Regions from separate parts of the Homo sapiens genome. Here region 2 is linked to region 1. Evidence: fine-mapped expression QTL. A gene starts in region 1. The other region holds a variant in brackets. All regions are shown on one strand. Distances are from middle to middle.

Region 1 (4,382 bases):
GTACTTGGATTTAGTAAAATTGAGGGAATTTTGGGGCTCTTCCCAATTTCTTCCTCATTTGCCTGTTTGCAGACACTAAAGTGAGCTGTAAAATCAATTTGTTCCCAAACTGCTACCTTTTCTAGTTTTCCCTCTGTCACATCTCGAATGACAACTGTGCCTATAATAATAAGATCCATGAAGAAATGGCCCCACATCCAGGGGACCTCGGGTCTGTGGGTCTGTGGGTATGTGCTCAGACCCCAACTGCTCATTCAGGATGCAGAACAGCCTTTGACTCTGCCACTGAAATGGTCACTTCCCAGAAGAATCTTTGGTATGTGAGCTCTCCCAGTTAAGAGCAATCCAGTTCACCCAGGCCAACCCTCTGTTCTGCAGAAATCTGCATGAGATGAGAAGTCCCTGGCCTCTGGTCATTGGGAGCACACCACCTCTTGACATAGCTGCATCTATAGGTGCTTTAGGCACCACCTAGGTGGTGGCTGCAGTAATGAACAAGGATAATAACTTAAGCTTGGCTTAGGATTTCTCCCTTCCTCTGTGCTGCACCGTGCTGTGTGAAGGGCTATCCCTTGTATATGAGGGACACTATTGCCCTGTGAATACATGGGCTGACCTGGCCAGCCACCCTCTGGCCTGTGTGGGACCCTGGGTAACAGGGCTCAGTCTAGGAGCGGAGGGTAGGACTCTGCCTAGGTCCTCCCCTGCTCCTGGCACTGGATAATATGAAGACCAAGGAACCTCTACCTCTGCAGCTGCCCAGAGCTGAGCCTGGGCTCTCACTGTCCATTCAGGAGGCAGAGGGTAGACCTGGCTGGCTGCTCAGCATCTTGTTCCTGCCAGTCAGCAGGCCCTGGAGAGATTCCAGGGCTCAGCCCTGGTCTTAGTGTGGTCTCACTCGCTCTGCCTGGGCAGTGACAGCACCATTAATATGGAGGCTGGTGAGAGCGGAGCACACAAAAGCAGCCTGCCTGCTGCTTTGCCTCTCTCTGCCCAGGGCATGGTGCTAGTTCATGGTGGTTTCAGCCTTTCCTAGCAGCTTAGGTTTATGTGGAGGATGGCAGGGGAACAGGACTGGTTTCTGAGACTAGGTTCCAGCTCTCCTTGCCCTCTAAAGATAGAAACAAACAACACACAACACACATGTATGTCTTCCCCAGACTCTCCGTCTCATAACTCAGAACCAGAGAGTCTCAGAGCTGAGAGGGGCCTCGGGGAAGATTTCACTGATGGAGAAAGCTCCAGAAGAGAGGGCAAGCATCCTGCCTGGGGTACCATGGCAGGGAGAGCAGAGTCAGAGGCTGGACCAAAATGCAGCCTGAGTGGAAGCATGCCTTACCCCAGGCCCTGCTTCCCGAGCCCAATGCCCCACTCAGCTGGCAGACACAGCAGGCCCGCCCTGGGCACTCTGAGGGTGCAGCCACAGCAGATCACCAAGGAGGCATTCTGGGCCAGGGTGGGGTGGGGGGCCTGGGCAAGTTCTCTGGGGAGGTTTCCAGCTCCTCCACACCTGCTGTGGGGCCTGATTCTCCCCGCCCCTGCCCCGCTACTGGTGTGGAAACCAGGGTCAGGTGAAGCCCTGCCCAAGCCTTGAGGAAGAGAGACACATTCTCACTTCTTCCTTTATTCTTTCTGGTGCCCAAGGCACTAACAACTGGGTGTATAAAGCCTTCCAGATAATTTCAGCCAATTTCTCCCCTAGACTTACTCCATCTGATTAAATGGCCACCCAGTCACTCAAGCAGGAGACCTGATGTTATCCCTGCCTCTGGGCTCCTACTTAAAACCAGCCACCCACTCCAGTTCCTCCTCACCAGGTCTGGCTGCCCCTCCGAAATCTCTCTCCATTCCAGCTTCCACGGTCTGATCCAAGGACTTCAACCCACTCAGGCCACTTGATCTCATTAGACTCATGGGTGTCTCCCTGCTTCCCTCCAGGCCTCCTCGATACATTTCCTTCCCAGAGGCTATGGAGGCTTTTGGAGGATGCAGATCTGCCCATGGGCTCTCCGTCTCTGCCTCCCTCCAGTGTCCTCGCTCAGGGAGGGGAAGCTCAGGCGGAAAGCTGCCGAACTTTGGGTTGCGGCTGTCCCTCGATTAGCAGAGCTGCGGTGTTCTCCTCGGGCAGGCGGGCAGGTGGGCGCGCTTTGCTGCCCCCTGCAGCTCGGGGGCCTGCGATCCCCGCACAGAGCATTCCGTCACCCCAGGCCCACGCTCTCCAGCCCACCGCCCTCCTCTGGACGCCGCGAGTGGAAGAGAGCTGCGAACTGAGAAGCCGTACTTTGGGCAGGGTGGAGGGCCCGGGGGCTGGAGACTGAGCCCCTCCGAGAGGAGCCGCCCGGCCCCGCCCCCCGGCGCAGCCATTGGCCGCGGCGGAGCGGCTGTACCCGCAGCTCCGTGCACTCGGCGGCTCCTCTCCGGGAAGGTCCCCACTTGACAGCTCTGGGCGACCGGAGGTGGCGCCCAAAGGCTGCCCGGGAGATCGGGGCTGGGCTGGCGGGGGCCAGGACCCCGCGCCCTCTCGGCCGCTCACTCTCGCGTCCACTCCCTCGCAGTCACGCCGGGCGCGCACTCCCACTCCCTCTCCGCACGCGGCTGCGGGACGCGATGGACGCGGCACTGCTCCACAGCCTGCTGGAGGCCAACTGCAGCCTGGCGCTGGCTGAAGAGCTGCTCTTGGACGGCTGGGGGCCACCCCTGGACCCCGAGGGTAGGCGGGAGGCGAGCGGTCGGAGGCTGCGCGGGCTCCTTCTCTCGCGCGCTGGGTGCGCCCCTGACCCCGCGCTCCGAGAGCCCCGCGTCCCTGCGGGCCCCTCTGAGCCCTACTGCGCTCTCTCCCGCCGCCAGGTCCCTACTCCTACTGCAACACGACCTTGGACCAGATCGGAACGTGCTGGCCCCGCAGCGCTGCCGGAGCCCTCGTGGAGAGGCCGTGCCCCGAGTACTTCAACGGCGTCAAGTACAACACGACCCGTGAGTGCCCCCGGCCCTCGCTGCCTGCTCTACACCGGCCTCCTGAGAAGGCGGTTTAGGGAGTAAAGAGGATTCCGGACCCAGCGGTACAAAGCTGCTGACGGCCGCGGTACCGCGGACCGCGGGCGTTAAGGACCCCTTACAGTGTTGGGGGCGCGCCTTCTGCTTCTACCCCCAATACAGCGTCTAATCTCAGTAAGCCAGTGATTTGCCCACAATTCCCGTGCTCCATGCGGTGACAGCCCAAAAAGGGGAGAAGGAAATACTTCCTCCTCTTGGAGTGTAAACCTCCTTCCCTCATTGTAGGTTCCCGTTGCCTGAAGTTCCCCATTAGGGCTTCATTGTTTAGACAATGCTTCCCCTGCCCAGGAGGGGGACCTATCCCAGGAGGGCGGATATGCTAAGTCCCAAATCCCCCAGAGTGAGTGCAGTGACCAGACCCTACTACCAGAGGGGAGGAGGAGGGTAGGAGGCAGGAGGGCTGGGGCGAGCGCATGTTTCGTGGGGAGGACATGCAGGCGTAGGTTCTGCTAAGCCAGAGGGTGCGGGGTGTTGCATCTTCCCTAATCCGAGGTCCCAGGACTGACCTGCTGGGCTGAGTCAGGGGCTGTGGGCAGCATTATTCCTGCGCCCCCATAATGAGTGGTGTCTGAATCAGCACCCCAACACCATCTCTCAAGGAGAACAACCTGTGCCTGCCTTCCTCCTGGCAAATCATGGACTGGCTTGAGGCTCTGGGGAAAAGGGCAGTAGAGGTTGCTGGAGTTACACAGCCTCCAGGTGGGGTCGTTCAGTGTGGGTTCTGGGTGTGTGCGTGTGGGTAGGTGCCTGTCTGTGCCCTGTGGAACATGGGATGGGAGCCAGGTGTGTGGTCTGCGGGAGGCTGTGGGGGCAGCAATCACTGCCCCACCTAGAACCCCCCTGATATCTCCAGCCGGACCCCAGTTGTCAAGCACGCTGAGACCCTATCTGGATTGTTTGTCTGAAGCCTCTCATCCTGGAAACATCCTCAGAGTGTCTGTGTCTGATTGGTAGCCCAGCTCCACCTCCACCACACATACACACACACACACACACACACACACACACACACACAAGCTTTCAGAAGCTGAGGCTGAGGGCTTTGCCATGAGAGATGGTTAGAAGGCAAGAGAGATGTACCTGCACCTGATGCCAAGCCGCACTCTCCTGGCTGCACCAGCTGAGGGCTCTGGTGGGCCCAGGGAGCACATGCTTCCCATCCATGATTAAAACAGATCTCCCTAGAAGGAAGTAAGATCCCCAAGCTAGGAGGTGTGCAAGCAGAAGGAATGATTTCCCTGTGCCTTCCTAGTCCTGACCTTATAAAACTGTATTTTTAGGATTCCGTGAGCTGTGTGGGGTGGGGCAATGGAGATCAGCATGCCTGA
Region 2 (4,382 bases), 27 kb before region 1:
TTCCTGCAATGTCATCACCATGGTTCTAATGATTAGAAACACATATTACCCATGGGATCAGTCATCAATGACCAGGAAGAAAATCATGGTGAGAACTTCTCAGAAAGAATCCCCTGGTTGGCTGGGTGTGGTGGCTCACGCCTGTAATCCCAGCACTTTGGGAGGCCGAGGTGGACGCATCACCAGAGGTCGGGAGTTCGAGACCAGCCTGACTAACATGGAGAAACCCTGTCTCTACTAAAAATACAAAATTAGCCAGGCATGGTGGCGCATGCCTGTAGTCCCACTCAGGAGGTTGAGGCAGGAAAATCATTTGAACCTGGGAGGCAGAGGTTGCAGTGAGCCAAGATTGCGCCATTGCACTCCAGCCTGGGCAATGAGAATGAAATTCCATCTCAAAAAATAATAATTAAAAAAAAAAAAGAATTCCCTGGTTAACTAGTCACATGGCTTAGAGGTTATTAAACTGATGGCTGCTGTCCCTCCCTAGCAGTGTATGCTGGTGACTCAGCGCCAAACGTGCCAACTTGAGCTGTGATTTCTTTTCCCAAAGGCAGTATGTTGATTCTCTGACCTTTGAATCTTTTATTTGGTCACAGCCATGGATAAAGAAATGAACCTGGAGAAGCAGCGTAGCCTCTTCCCTAGAGGGACTTAAGTCCCAGCTCTGACAGGGACCAACTGTAGAAGCCTGAGCAAGCCCTTCCCCTCTCTGGGCCTCACTTTGCACATCTAAAATGAGGGGAATTAAGCTAGATGTTCTCTAAAGTTACTTGCAAAATTCTCTATTTTTGTATACAGTATTAATTTGCCAACTCTTGCTAGATTTTCATCAACAGTGCAAATATCTGTAAAAGATCAAAGTCACTTCTGGTGCCAATCATCAGGAGCAGGGTGGCCAGGGTGACCTCTTCCATCCAAGCCATATTTTGCTTTCACTCTTCCACTTGAAGCCTGTCACAGTAGCAGCTAGTCTTTGACTGAGGGTGTACGATGGGCCAGGCGCTGATTTAACCACTGGGCCTAGATTCATACATGTAGTTCCCCATGATCCAAAGAGGTAGGTACCATGAAAGGTACTATTGTCAGCTCCACTTTACAAAGGGAATTGTGAGCCAGAGAACGGAAGTCACTCACCCAAGGTCACACAGCTAGAGCACAGCAGACAGAATTCTCACCAGGCAATCTGGCTTTAGTCAATTCCTATTGAGCTCCTATTATGTGCATATAATAAAAGACACTGCAAAGAATCAATATTTGGGGACAACTGTGATGGTATTTATGCCATGTTCAAAACTAATTTCCCCTTCTTCCTGAGAAGCTGGGGGAAATTCAGGACAACTTGAATTTCCTTTGTCAATATTCTATATACCTGCCAACGAGAACATTAGCAGATTGTGCAAGGAGGCATGGTTCTCCACACAAATACTTTCTATTATTGCTGAATCAATAGCTCTGGTGCTCAGTTTGAGAGAACTATATTTCTGAAATAAAGAGAAAGAAAATTTTACTCAGAAATTCCAATTCTGCCTTCACAAACAGCCTCCCGGTAAGAGCAGTGGAGGCGCGGGTAGTTGATGGCTAGATGGGCTCTGAAATTCAGCAGGAGGACCAGGGGCGGGGGATGGGTGAGTGATACTCTCATAGCAAGCCCTGGGAAAACAAGAGAGGTATTTCTAAGGACCTGCAGGCGCTGCGTGGCCCTTCCCACAGAAGGGCACCATAGCACAGTAGTTAAGAGCATGGACTCCTGACCCAGACTGCTGGGTCAACTCCTAGATCCACTGCTTATTATTAGAGCTGTGACCTTGGGCCCATGACCTCAGCTCTCTGTGCTTCAGTTTCTTCATCCCTAAAACACAGGTAACAATATGGTTTTATATAGGGATTATATACATTTATAGGGTATATCTGAAAGGATTAGAATTATGCCTACCAGGGACCAAGGCTATGTATGCATTAGCTGTTATTAATACAGTTTCAGGTAACTCACCAAGCCCTGTATTTGGAAATGCAGAAGTCAAGGGTTTAGATGGGTGTGGGATTTAACTTTCCCATTAAATATGCTTCCTTCTAAGAATAGCATTGTGATGGCCTTCCCAGAGCGTGAAGCAATGGGAATGAGTTTCTTTCCCTTTTTTCTACCACCCAATCGTTTCCATCCTTTGATTCCCCTGGGATCCTTTGCCACAGGTTCCAGCCCCTGTGACCTCCCATCCCTCTTGCACAATCTCGCAGCCTCCAGCTCACACCCAGCCTAGGCTGTTCCCTGACTGTGGGTAAGTCAGCCTCCCAAGAATGAGGCTGGATTTTTCCTCTGCTTCTCTTCCTCCCCCCATCTCATCTTCATGGATGGGCCTGGGTCTCCTCTTCCCATATTTCCTGATCAGAGCTGGCACACAGCTGGGCCCACAGAAGAAATCAGAGTCCAGGAGTTCGAGACCAGCCTGGGCAACATAGAGAGACCCCTTATCTACCAAAAAAAAAAAAAAAAAAACCTGGGCACAGTTGGTCCCAGCTACTTGGGAGGCTGAGGTGGGAGAATTGCTTGATCCTGGGAAGTGGAGGCTGCAGTGATCTATGATTATGCCACTGCACTTCAGCCTGGGAACAAGAGCAAGACCCTGTCTCAAAAAAAAATAAAAAAAAAAAAAGAAGAAGCTGGGACTCTGACTGGAGGGGGCC[A/G]TGAGAACATGAGCTCCCTGGAACACATACATGCCCATGGAGGTCACTGAACCCCCTCAGGGAGGCAGGATAGCGTGCTCACAGCAACTTGAGTTAAATCTCAAAGGACAGCTGTCACCACATGGTAAGAGATATGGATGAGGGAGGCCAAGGAGAATGCAGCCCTCACACAGTAGGAACACGGCTTTCCTCCTTTCCCCAGACGGAAGGCAGGGCAAACAGTGGCTTCGGTGTTGTTCTGTTTCACTCCTTTCTTTGGGCTTCAATTAGTTAAACATCTCCCCTTGCTTCTGGCTTATTTCTAGCCTTCAGCATTATTGATAACTTCGGTGTATCTTGGGAAGGTGGGAGGGGTGAGCCAGGAGGTGCTAGTTGCAGCTATCATACTTCCACGTCCCCTACTTCGCATTTTTTCAGGGCTTTGTCTAATTCCAGGAATAACTGAGGGCTGTGGAGAAGAGATCAGAGTGGAAGAAAGTGGATCCCACCCTTCTCTACTGACAGCCTAGCTCAGACTACTCACCGGCAGGCTATGATGATGATCAGAGTGTCTGCCTGAGAGGCCATCAGCCCCAGCCCAGGGAGTAGCCGAGCAGAGACCAGGGAACCCCTGGCAGGGAGGCTGGATCCGTAAGAACGTAAACATGACCCAGGGGCAATGTAAGGCAGCTCAGCCATGGAGACGATTCCATTTCACAGATGAGAAACTTGAGGTCCAGACGATGAATCCCTTTTCTCCAAGGGCTCACAGCCAGTAAGTCTTACAGCCAGACCGGAATCCTCCCTCCCAGTTCAGGCTCCAGGCCAAGTGAACTAGGCAGAGGACAAACCTTGCAGGCCGCTGGCTTCACTCTCACACTACCCCACCCAGCCCCACCAGCCACCAGGAGAGCACTCTGAAGTCAATGTGGCATTCGGCTCTGGTTTCCTCTGGCTCTCTCCTTTGTCCTCCCATGGCCCAAGGGGAGGACAGCTGTTCTGGACACAGGTGACTCCATTACAAAAGGCCACCTCCTCACCTTGCCAGTCTGATGCCACTGGCCGGTGGTCTTGTCCCTGCATTCAGGTGGAAATGCCCCCAAGCTGCCCAGCCACTGGGCCTGACATTTGCCCAGTGAAGGGCTGAGTCCAGGATCTGCCAATCCCGTCGACCACTCACCTTTTATTGACCTGCTGTCTCAGGCTCTTGCCCTCTGGGGAGCCCCAAGCTCAAGGCCCCACAACATCACCCTGCCGTAGAGGCAGCGTGGCCCAGAACAAGAGGAAGAGACATGTGTCATTGATTTGTCTCACTGAGCAGGCAGAAAAAGGTTGGGGAGAGGGCCAGCTAAGTGGCTGGGGAAGAAGCCTTCCTGGGGGTGGCCTTCCTGAAAATGCCAGGTCCCAGGCCTCATGGGGCCTTGGTTTCTCCACCTGTGAGATGGAAGCATGAATCGAGTGACTGTCAAGGTCCCTTCTGGCTGCAGTGTTCTCTGGATAGCAGCATCTGGACCAGGACTCAGGCCACCATCACGTCCCTGCAGAGTCTGCTGCCTGATCTCCCTGCCCCTGGGCGTGTCCCAGCCAAGCCATCCTCCACCCTATTCTTCCCACGTTCCAGCCCTTGTCACTCCCATGGTGGAAACCTCCAAAGTCTGCCTTACCCAGCCCACATGCCCCAGGCCTGCGCTCTGCCCACGGCCCTGCCTCACCCTAGT

Which allele goes with the higher level. Alleles are on the strand shown, and positions count from the first base shown. SD is a standard deviation of normalised expression in the study named.
For the expression in thyroid of the gene that starts at base 2,432 in region 1, G is the high allele of the variant in region 2 and A is the other (large effect, 0.75 SD a copy in GTEx).

The links.
Region 2: its variant is fine-mapped to the expression of CRHR2 in thyroid (GTEx, PIP above 0.99). The same link has a PIP of 0.9 or more in aorta, atrial appendage, breast, coronary artery, esophagus mucosa and esophagus muscle.

Annotation. Positions count from the first base shown.
Region 1 is chr7:30,680,506-30,684,887 of GRCh38, reverse strand. CRHR2 (corticotropin releasing hormone receptor 2) reads left to right here and starts at 2,432. Exons shown (of 12, transcript NM_001883.5): 1 at 2,432-2,710; 2 at 2,848-2,973. The coding sequence starts at 2,608. It overlaps LOC124901608 (a long non-coding RNA gene), which reads right to left and starts at 2,269. Exons shown (of 2, transcript XR_007060275.1): 1 at 1,815-2,269. RefSeq lists a silencer at 2,361-2,410.
Region 2 is chr7:30,707,011-30,711,392 of GRCh38, reverse strand. All of the region lies in intron 1 of LOC105375220 (a long non-coding RNA gene), which reads right to left. Among named protein-coding and RNA genes, the nearest start is that of CRHR2, 27 kb to the right of the region's middle. RefSeq lists an enhancer at 3,454-3,954. The variant A/G (reference allele first, on the strand shown) is at 2,686.